3 linked regions of the Homo sapiens genome follow. Each later gene encodes a partner of the first gene's protein in a complex. Each region holds a gene or a part of one and is shown on either strand. Other genes may lie near its edges. A codon is read from its position in the direction of its gene.

The links.
Region 2: SF3B3 (region 1) and DDX46 share a complex: the UniProt entries of both Homo sapiens proteins name them as parts of the 17S U2 SnRNP complex.
Region 3: the proteins of SF3B3 (region 1) and PHF5A are in contact, whole or in part, in a crystal structure (PDB 7B91), measured with the Homo sapiens proteins. Residues at the interface, in NP_036558.3 of Homo sapiens: Gly85, Arg86, Gln104, Glu105, Thr106, Phe107, Gly108, Lys109, Ser110, Leu140, Ile154, Ser155, Ser156, Pro157, Glu159, Ser1162; in NP_116147.1 of Homo sapiens: Gln14 (codon at 2,285), Ala15 (codon at 2,288), Gly16 (codon at 2,291), Val17 (codon at 2,294), Arg44 (codon at 3,338), Asp47 (codon at 3,347), Glu79 (codon at 3,443), Asp81 (codon at 3,449), Arg82, Asp83.

Annotation. Positions count from the first base shown.
Region 1 is NC_000016.10:70,554,783-70,558,532, forward strand, and holds part of SF3B3 (splicing factor 3B subunit 3), read left to right. Parts: intron 1-268; coding exon 269-424; intron 425-1,396; coding exon 1,397-1,552; intron 1,553-2,103; coding exon 2,104-2,247; intron 2,248-3,750. UniProt on the Homo sapiens protein: Component of the 17S U2 SnRNP complex of the spliceosome, a large ribonucleoprotein complex that removes introns from transcribed pre-mRNAs.
Region 2 is NC_000005.10:134,810,766-134,814,515, reverse strand, and holds part of DDX46 (probable ATP-dependent RNA helicase DDX46), read right to left. Parts: intron 3,296-3,750; coding exon 3,158-3,295; intron 2,821-3,157; coding exon 2,671-2,820; intron 1-2,670. UniProt on the Homo sapiens protein: Component of the 17S U2 SnRNP complex of the spliceosome, a large ribonucleoprotein complex that removes introns from transcribed pre-mRNAs.
Region 3 is NC_000022.11:41,467,149-41,470,898, reverse strand, and holds the start of PHF5A (PHD finger-like domain-containing protein 5A), read left to right. Parts: upstream 1-2,206; 5' UTR 2,207-2,245; coding exon 2,246-2,297; intron 2,298-2,751; coding exon 2,752-2,775; intron 2,776-3,284; coding exon 3,285-3,451; intron 3,452-3,750. Other genes in the region: ACO2 (aconitate hydratase, mitochondrial precursor), read right to left, coding at 1,717-1,752.

The sequences.
Region 1 (3,750 bases):
TCACTGCAGCTTTCATCTCTAATAAAGATCTTTATAAGTGTTTTGTTAATAAGCTTTGAACTTCTTTGAAGTGGACACTGCAAAACATGAACTATTTAAAAGTTGACCTTGCCTGAGGCCTACTAACTCTTTTGTCTTTGATTCAACTGGTGCCTCAAATGCAGTGGCCCCAGGTCTGATTTTAGTGACAGATCTGATAGATGTGAGGGTCATTCTGAGTGATGAATCAAATTGTTAAAGTCAGGTTTCTTTCTGTTACTGACTCTAGGTCTATCCAGATGGCATTCGGCACATACGAGCAGACAAGAGAGTCAATGAGTGGAAGACCCCTGGAAAGAAAACAATTGTGAAGTGTGCAGTGAACCAGCGACAAGTGGTGATTGCCCTGACAGGAGGAGAGCTGGTCTATTTCGAGATGGATCCTGTATGTTATTTTATCATTCACTGTGGGACTTATTGTAGGGACCAGAGGGAAAGATGGGCATTGTAGTCTAGTCATTTAGATGATAGTATGGTGAAATCCTGTCTCTACTAAAAATACAAAAATTAGCTGGGCGTGTTGGCATGCACCTTGTAGTCCTAGCTACTCAGGAGGCTGAGGCAGGAGAATTGCTTGAACCCGGGAGGCAGAGGTTGCGGTGAGCTGAGATTGCACCACTGCACTCCAGCCTGGCGACAGAGCAAGACTCCGTCTCAAAAAAAAAAAAAAAAAAAAAAAGCGAGCTGGAGTGACAGTGTTCACAAACCAGTTTGGTCCCTTACAGAGATGGGGAAAAGGGGTAATTTGATGTCTAATTCTAGGTAGAGTTATGAAATCCCCTCTTAGCAGTGAAACACTTGCTCCTCCTGCATTTCACTCTCTACTTTTCCAACAAATATTTGGCATAGATTTAATTTCTGCAGTCTGAATCCATTTCAGAAAACTTCTATATGGAAGGATGTTCAGTACACTTAATTCTCTTGCTCTCAGGAGGTCTCTAGTGTGGCCAAATTTGTAGCCTGCCTGTACCTTTGGTTGAGATTTCTCTGTCTTTAACCATATTTGAATTCCCTTCACCCAGAATATTCTTGTAAAACACAGACAGTTTTATATGTCTCCATTTCCTGAGAACAAAGTTGGCTCAGAAAATTTGTGGCACATTGACCTTGTCAAAGGTCTGTTCATTCTCTTATTGATGGAAGATACTCATTTTGCTTGCTGTGAGCCTGTTAACTTCAGTCTTGAGAACTCAGGTAGATAAATTCTTGTCATTTACTATAGTAAGAGGAGTGAGAGGAAGCAGAACAAAATACAACAGCCCTCCTTCATTCTCTGGATCCAGGGTTTTGGGGTGAATTGGAGCATCTAGACCCATCCCTCTGTAGTTTTGACCTTGCTGTGTCTTTCCTCCTGTAGTCAGGACAGCTGAATGAGTACACAGAACGGAAGGAGATGTCAGCAGATGTGGTGTGCATGAGTCTGGCCAATGTACCCCCTGGAGAGCAGCGGTCTCGCTTCCTGGCTGTGGGGCTTGTGGACAACACTGTCAGAATCATCTCCCTGGATCCCTCAGTGAGTGACACTCTGAGCTTCAAGGATCATCTGGTTGGAACCTGAGCATCTGGCTCCTGATGTCTATCTCTGAGATCCACTCCTGATGTCTATCTCTGAGATCAGCTGGGTTAGAACCCAGAATCCATACCTGCTGCTTCTCTTGTCATTGCAGTGTGTTTCAGGAGTTTCCTGCTGTGGTTTAAGGATATGATCTGAGACTACAGAAATGTTTCTTTGGCTTAAGCCTCAACTCCTTTTTTTAAGTTAACAACCAAGACTGCATAAATTTGACTTGCTGCAGGACCCTAGGTGACTTTTCAGGAGGTGTGCTTTGCTTAATTACCTTTGCCATTATCTTCTTTGACAAAAGGAGGAAAGCATGATCTTCCCGAAGCTTATTCTGAAATTGGGTGTAACTAATAACTCAGTACTCTCTTAGAACTCACTCCCCGGGTTTTTTCTGTGCATAAGGAAGTACTTTTTCAATCCTAGAATTAGATTTCTCTGGGTATGTTTTTTTCCTAAAATTGTCATTTTCTGTGTTTTTATGATTTTTCTCTCCCTCTCAGGACTGTTTGCAACCTCTAAGCATGCAGGCTCTCCCAGCCCAGCCTGAGTCCTTGTGTATCGTGGAAATGGGTGGGACTGAGAAGCAGGATGAGCTGGGTGAGAGGGGCTCGATTGGCTTCCTATACCTGAATATTGGGCTACAGGTAAGAGATCCAGAGGCCCACATTGTGGACATTAGGCCTTCTGTACGTTTCACACACTCCTTTGTTTGATAACAGGGATTTTCTCTGCCCATGGTTTCAGATCCTCACCTTATGAAAAGTGAACAGTGTCACTCTGGGTTCCACTTTTCTCAGCTCTTTAATTCGAACAAATCAGGCTGAGAAAGAAATATTTTGATAAAGAGTCTTCACATCTGATAAATGCTGTTTGATAGCTACTCTAAGTCAGAACTGGATGGGTTCCTGAAGGATCAACTGTAGTTCCCACTATTCACTAGTTTCAAAAGCAGCAATGAATACCTCTCAGTTCATAATTGGCTTCATTAGCAATAAAGGACCCCTAAATGTTCCCTGTTGTCAAAGTTGCTGAGCTCTTTGTGCCGTGAAGAAAAGGTGTGCTTTAACGCTAAGATAGTGTCAGGATTCTTGATCATATGCTTTTCATTTTCCTTAATGATTATTGACTCAGACATCTAAGTAATCTAGCCCAGGTACTTTTTGCTTTTTAATTTTACTTCCTAATTTAGAAATCTCAAACATAGCCAGAAGTTAGAGAGACTAATACAGTGAACTTCCATGTACCCAGTTTTTTTGGGAGAGGGTTGTTGTTATTTTTTTAGTTTTTTTTCTTTTGTTGGATTTTTATGGGCTGCCACATGGGTTTTCGGTCTATTTTTTTCTTTTTTAGTTTTAACAGCTATCAGCAACATTCTGCTGTTCTTATTTTATCTTTTCCCTGGACTATTTTAAAGCAAATCCAAGATCTATCATTTCATCTATAAATACTTGATAATGTAGTTCCAACAGATGTCTGTTTTTGTAAGATACTAGTATTATCATGCTCAGCAAAATATAACAATAGTTCCTTATTACCATGTTCCAGTTTTCCCTGTTCTTCTTTCCCCCAATGTGGCTTTATAGTTGGTTGTGCTCAGGACCTCAGCATAGCAGTCTACGCTTTTTCCATTTCCTTCATCTTTCTTTTTATGTCTCTTAAACTGTTCTACCCCATTTTGAAGTATTACAAGATCAGATCATTTGTCTTGTAGAATTTCCCACCTTCTGGACTTAATAAAGTCATTCCTTATGTGTTCAAGTTCCTGTATCCTCTGTATCAAGCTGGTGGGTAGAATTAGACCATGCCATCCATTAGAAATGTAAGGTGAACTACAGGTGTAATTTAAATTTTCTAGTAGCCACGAACAGGAAAAAAGTAATTTTAATGTTTTTTTTTTTTCTTTAAAAAAAAATAGAGATAGGGTCTCGCTGTGTTGCTCAGACTGGTCTTGAACTCCTGGCCTCAAGTGGTCCTCCTACATTGGCCTCCAAAAGTGCTGGTGGGAATGCAGGCATGAACCACCGTGCCTGGCCAGTTTTAATGTTTTATTAACTCTGTATATCTGAAATCATTCTAACATGTAGTTAATATAAAAATTGCTGAGCTATTTCACCTTTTTTTCTCTCTTTTTTAAACCAAGTCTGAAA
Region 2 (3,750 bases), on another chromosome or scaffold:
ATTACAATCTGAACAAATTCATAAAATCAGGAAAGGGGGAAGTATACAATGCTAGCTGGTAGAGCTAACCTTACTTTTGATTTTATTCGTGTTAAGTACTGTTTACATTTTTCATAAAATTATATATTACTTTAACACCCGAAGAAACAATCACCGTATTTTATCACAAGATTTTAAAAAACAGTTAAAAATACTGCAGTTTTCCCTTTACACATGGAATACATTCCAAGAACCCCAGTGAATGCCTAAAAACAGAGATAGTACCGCACCGACATACACTGTTTTTTCCTATACATACATACCTATGATAAAGTTTAATTTATAAATTAGGTACAGTTAAGAGATTAACAACAATAAAATAGGACAATTATAGCAATATACTGTAATAAAAGTTATATGAATGTGGTCTCAAAATACTGTAATAGTTTCAGACTGTGGTTAACCTATGGCAACTAAAACCACAGAAAAGAGGAAACTACCATAATGTCAAAAAGTGACAGATGTTTTTAAAACATGGCTACAAATTATTTAATAGTCTTTTTTCTTGAGTGTGGGCTGGACTTAATGACTTCCTTCTAATAGAAGAAAGTGGGCTGGGCATGGTGGCTCATGTTTGTAATACCATCACTTTGGGAGGCTGAGGCAGGAGGATCACTTGAGCCCAGGAATTTCAGACCAACCTAGGCAACACAGTGAGACCTCGACTCTAAAAAAAAAAACATTTTAAAATATATATTAACAGGGCATGGTGGTGCACCCATAGTACCAGCTACTCAAGAGGCTGAGGTGGGAAGATCGCTGAGGCAGCAGTGAGTTGAGTTCGCACCACTACACTCCAGTTTGGGCAACAGAGTCAGACTCTGTTTCCAAAACAAAACAAAACAAGACAAAAAAAACCCCATAAAGAATAAAGTGGAAGTGACAGTGTGTAATTTCAGAGACAGTCATAAAAAGCACTAAAGCTTTCTCTTTGCTCTCTTTGATCACTCACTGTGGGGAAAGCCAGCTGCCATGTGGGTAAGGACAGGCAAAGAGGTGAAGAACTGAGGCATCCTATCTACATCAAAGTGACTGATGTTGGAAGCAGATCATCCAGCAACAGTCAAGCCTGCAGATGACTGCAATCTCACGAGCGCCTAAGCCAGAACTACCTGACTAAACTGCTCCTGATTTCCTGACCATAAGGAACTATGTGATAATAAGTGTTTATTGCTTTAACCTGCTAAGTTTTGATTTGTTACATGGTAACAGATAAATTTAAAAAATGAAATGTGGTCGGGCGTGGTGGCTCACGCCTGTAATCTGAGCACTTTGGGAGGCCGAGGCAGGCGGATCACGAAGTCAAGAGATCAAGATCATCCTGGCCAACATGGTGAAACCCTGTCTCTAGTAAAAATACAAAAAAAATTAGCCAAGCATGGTGGCGCGTGCCTGTCGTTCCAGTTACTTGGGAGTCTGAGGCAGGAGAACCACTTGAACCTGAGAGGCAGAGGTTGCAGTGAGCCAAGATCAAGCCACTGCACTCCAGCCTGGTGACAGAGCGAGACTCCGTCTCAAAAAAAAAAAAATGACTTTATTGGCCAGGCACAGTGGCTCACACCTATAATCCCAACACTATGGGAGGCCAAGGCAGGTGGATCACCTGAGGTCAGGAGTTTGAGACCAACCTGGCCAATATGGTGAAACCCCATCTCTACTAAAAATACAAAAATCAGCCGGGCGTGGTGGTGGGTGCCTGTAATCCCAGCTACTAGGGAGGCTGAAACAGGAAAATCGCTTGAACCCAGGAGGCAGAGGTTGCAGTTGAGCTGAGATTACGACACTGCAGTCTGGCCTGGGTGACAGAGCAAGACACGCCCGGCTAATTTTTTGAGCTAGTATGGTATCCTAGAAAGAAATGGCTTAAGGTTAATAGGACAACTGGGTTCTGGTCCTGTCTGTGTTAACTCCCACTGTGGTCCTGGACCTAACATCTTTTCTTGGAGTCAATTTCCTAATGATAAGATCAGGTTGAATTTCTGATTTCCAAAATTATTTTCTGAACTTAAGTTTAACATGATATGTCCAAAAGTGTTCTGAGATCAGGTATGTTGGGGAATTTCTGGGTTTAATGAAGTTAAACAAGATTCGTTAAAGACTTTTCACATCCATGGCCAGACGAGGTGGCTCACGCCTGTAATCCCAGCACTTTGGGAGGCCAAGGAAAGCGGATCACTTGAGGTCAGGAATCTGAGACCAGCCTGGGCAAGAAGGTTAAACCCCGCCTCAACTAAAAATACAAAAATTAGCCAGGCGTGGTGGTGGATGCCTGTAATCCCAGCTACTCAGGAGGCCAAGGCAGGAGAATTGCTTGAACCCAGGAGGCGGAGGTTACAGTGAATGGAGACCACGCCACCGTACTCCAGCCTGGGTGACACAGCCAGACTCCCATCGCAAAAAAAAAAAAAAAAAAAAAAGGACTTTTCACATCCTTTGAAGTGCTAATGAGTGGTCTATATATTGAGAGGAGGGGTACTGGTATGTAGTAGGCAGATTTTCCAAAACTGTTCTGGAACCAACCTCTTGTAAAGGTTTCCAGTGATTGTCTATCTTGATAACCATATATGGCAAGACCTCCAGTACAAAAGAAATAACTGCTTCAATTAAGAATGAGAGAATAATAGTACTTACATCAACTGCAGCATCCTCATCATCTGAATCTTGTAGACCAAGAGCTGCTTTTTGTAACTTCTTCCTCTCATTAGCCAAAGCTTGTTCTGTTTCATCAAACTTGAATCCCTTACCAGAGAACCCACTACTCTTTTTAATTATTTTCCCCTCCTTTCAAAAAAAGAAAACGAAGTTAATCTCATAGTAAAAACTTTAATGTTTAGGAATTCATACTAATTAAATATTTTTCAAGGTGGTGTATGTCAATGTAATAAAAACACTTCATCTAGCATGTAAGATAAACTAAGAGCTCTACATAGACACCACAAAATACTAAGTTCAAGAATAAGATAGGATTTTAGCTTTCACTCATTTTTCCCTCTAGAGAGAAATAAAAATAGTCGTAGCAAAATTTTCAAGTGTTAAATAAAAGATTTCCAAGAATTAAATAATCAAGGTTTAGTCACATTAATGATTTCTAGAAGAGTAACATGGGTTAAAAACTCACAGCTTTCTGCTGATCTTTGAAATCACTCCACAGTTTCTCTAAATCAGGAGGTACTGCAGTCCCTGACAATTCAAGAGCTTTAATTATGTCACCAGCATAGCGAGCTTGATCCTCTGTGATAAAAGTATAAGCATAACCCTAATGCATGATGAAAAAGTACAATTATTAGACACTAACAAGATGGATCCTACTTAGATCATAAGATAAAATCTGATCCACCTAATAAATCCTCGAGATTGACAACATTAACTAAAGAATTTTAAAAGCCACGAAAGAGTCTTACTAAATTACTTAATGGTTCAAAGTGAAATATCCAAGTTTAATTTTTATTTTTTGTTGTTTTTTATTTTTTTGAGATGGAGTCTCACTCTGTTGCCCAGGCTGGAGTGCAGTGGCGCAGTTTTGGCTCATTGCAACCTCTGCCTCCCGGGTTCAAGTGATTCTCCTGCCTCAGCCTCCCGAGTAACTGGGATTATAGGCGCCTGCCACTATGCCCGGCTAATTTTTGTATTTTCACTAGAGACATGGTTTCACCATGTCGGCCAGGCTGGTCTCAAATTCCTGACCTCAGGTGATCCGCCCGCCTTGGCCTC
Region 3 (3,750 bases), on another chromosome or scaffold:
CAGGAAGAAACAACTATTTCCACATCATTAACCTAGAGAATCAAAAGACGTGAAGAGGCCAGGTGTGGTGGCTCACACCTGTAATCCCAGGACTTTGGGAGGCCAAGGCAGGCCGATTACTTGAGGTCAGGAGTTTGTGACCAGCCTGGTCAACAGGGTGAAACCCCGTCTCTACTAAAAATACAAAAATTAGCCAAGCATGGTGGTGCACACCTGTAATCCCAGCTACTCGGGAAGCTGAGGGCAGGAGAGTCACTTGAACCCAGGAGGCAGAGTTGCAGTCAGCCAAGATTGCGCCATTGCACTCCAGCCTGGGTGACAGAGCAAGACTGTCTCAAAAAAAAAAAAAAAAAAAAAAAAAAAAAAAAAAGATGTAAAGAGATAATTAGGTGCAAATCCTTTCCCTTAGCCCGGAATTGAGATCAGAAATATTTTCTTTCAGATAAATGATGATTTTACTTTAAACCATATGGTTTCAATTTAAGCAATGTGATGAAAAATAAGTTCAAGTTTAAATTTAAGCAATGTGATGAAAAATAAGTTCAAGTACCACAAGCTTCCTGAGAGTACAACGCATAACAACTCGTAAAATTCTATTATCAAAGTTGCGCCACTTGATCCAAAAGGAATTCACAAAGTTAAATGTGAAAGGTTGACAGAGAATGTCTACAGATGCTTGCTTGATTTTTATTAACAAAGTACACATTTGACATTGAACCTCTGAGTATAACACCTTCCCAGGGCTGTCAAGTTAGAAGTGAAAAAATCATCTGGCAGTCAGTCAGCTTTCTAGATAGCTCCTAACAGGGGAGTCAAGGTCAAACTGGAGTCTCCTTATCCTCCCATATTTGACAAGCAACTTATTGTGAGGCTCAAAATATTCGTACTGCATTCTGACAAACAGAAATAATTGCACCGTGGTTCATAAAGTTCTGTGAGGGCAGGCTGACATAAACAAGAACTGAGTGGTGGTAGGGCCCATGCTTCTGCCACAGCACTTCGGTGACACTCTTGAGAATCAGAACTTTCACCTACTTTCTACCAGCTTTATCATCTATCAAATGAGAAAAACCACCTCATTCCTACGATTACAGGAATCAAATAATATTATGAAGAATTAAAACAGGCCTCAAATCTTGTGCAAAGGTGAGAGACTATTATTATATTATTTACTACGTATGGGCCCAGAAGACCGCCCCCCTCCCCGACATTCCACGTTCCGCAGGGTCCTCAAAAGGTGGTACAGGGTCCTAGTTTCTTCTCCAGACTCCAGGCCTGGCAACCGTAGATGCTGTCATGCCTCTGTTGCTAAGAGATGGGAAGTGAGGCCTCAGGAACTGGGCCTAGAAGACTCAACAACGACCGCGCCCCCTAGTCACCTTGTCCTCACCTTGAGGAATGGAAACACACCCCACGGGAGCAGGCAATGCTGTCCTCAAAAAGAAGAAAGAGGTGCCTCCGCTCTTCACCCGGCCGCCGCTGCTTGGGCCCACGCTTCTTGCGAGGCAGGGACAGGGCCAGGAAAGCTGACTGTGCCGGGGACGCCTTGACCTAGGGCACCAGAGAAGCGGGCACGGGTGCCGGGCCCACAACCGGGACAGGTACACGAGAAGTTGGCCCCAGGTTGGGCCCGCCTCGCCCTGCCTCGCCCACAGCCGCCGGCACAGTAGGAGGCACCCCGCCCCCGTGAACCCAGAGGTCCCTGAGCTCGCTCACCTGCAGCCGAGTCACCAGTAGGCTGTAGGGCGCCATTTTGTGCACTGACAAAGATGAGGTCGCATTAAAGTGACGTCCCACACGGCGCCTTTAAAGCCTTTGGGCAGGGGCGTGCCCGGAAGAGTGGGGCGTCACGGTGAAGGCGAGGCCTCCCTAGAGGCGCCAGAACCCTGTGAACGCAATGGGCGGAGCTCACGTGCAACGAACAGACACGCAAGAGGAAATCGGACTGCCCAAAGACACTTGCAGAAATAGATACCAAGCACAAAGATGTTTTACCCAAGAACAAATTTTAGTTATCTCCGCCATCCAAATCTGGGAGAGTTTTTAAGAGTTTCATGCACCTGCCAGGACCTGGCCGCCCAGCAGCGACAAAAACTCGCGCGAGAGCAAGACGGGCCTGGTGCAAGGATTGTAAACTGACGGAAGCTTAGAGAACCAATCACAGCGACGTGGAGGCAGGAACAATGGGGGTTAAAGGTCGGACGGAAGTTCCCGAAGCTTCCGGTGGCCGGCTTAGTTAGGAGCTATGGCTAAACATCATCCTGATTTGATCTTTTGCCGCAAGCAGGCTGGTGTTGGTGAGACTGCGCCCTACCCCTGGCTGTCTGGGCAGGGGTGGTATTAGGAGCTGGGGGGTCGGGGGTTCCCGTCTCTTCCTTAGGGGCTTGCCTCGCAGGCGCCACGTTTCCCGCCTCTCAGGCGCGGGGTGTTGTAGGAGCGCGCAGGTTTGTGGCCTCTGATGAGAAGAGGGCGGGGGTGCGCGTGCTGGGAGCCCCAGGCAGGTATCGGGGGGTGGGGTCTGAACCAGGTCCAGAGAAACTCTGAGCTTGCCCAGGGCGTTGGAGGAGATTCAGGAGGGTGCTTGGATGTAGGTTTGGTTCATATGGAAATTTGTAATGATAAAATGGCTATCCGCAGGTCTCACTCACTGCAGTCCTTACTCATGTCCCTACCCCCAGCTCGAGGATGTACTTCTCCTCTTTCTCAAAACCTTTATTCTAATTGTACTTTTTACCATCTTTCATCTTGCAGCCATCGGAAGACTGTGTGAAAAATGTGAGTGGAACACACCGTCCCAACAACCCACCCTTCCCACTCCCAGTTTTCTGTGGAACCAGCAAAAGTGCCACAAAGAGGGCTTTGAGTAGATGTGCCTGGAAGTATGTGAACACTGAATGCTGCACTTTAGCCAAAGGCCCCTCTAACTCCCCACTGCCGCTTGCACATTTAACGCTGTATCTCTCTAGTTTTCAACGGGAAGAATCGCCAGAGTAGCATGACCCCTCCCCAACACACAGCACTTTGCCAGCAATTATACAGGCTTATCATCTCCGAGGTGCTTTTCTAAGCTCTTCACATATGTTAATTGGTAAACTTTTGTATGTGTTGAGGGGCTTGAGATGGACACTGGGGAAACCAAGTTTTGTGATGCCAAGAGGAGGGCCCTAAAGTCACTGTCAAAAGGAGACTAGTGTATTTCCCAGGAGACTAGTATATTTCCCCATGGCAGGAGATAGCAGAGGACTGAAGAACTTGTGAGCATGACTCCATTCTCTTCCTTACAGGTGATGGCAAGTGTGTGATTTGTGACTCCTATGTGCGTCCCTGCACTCTGGTGCGCATATGTGATGAGTGTAACTATGGATCTTACCAGGGGCGCTGTGTGATCTGTGGAGGACCTGGGGTCTCTGATGCCTATTATTGTAAGGAGTGCACCATCCAGGAGAAGGACGTAAGTGTACAGCTTTCCATCTGACCTTTCCTCCTTTTGTTTAGTAACACTTTGCCATCCACTGCAATCTCCTATGGTCTATGGAGATTACTGTGTTCATCTAGTCATCTAGGTTATAATTTCTTCAAGTTCTGTGAGTCAAACTGGGTGTAGTCCAATAAAAGGCAGTTATTTTGCATCAAGGGGAAGAATGCAAGGGAAGCAAATCTTTGTCAAGACCAGCAATTTGGAGAGCCCTCTCATTCATGTCTCTGTGGTTATTCTTATTCAGAAATGACATCCGGCTGGGCGTGGTGGCC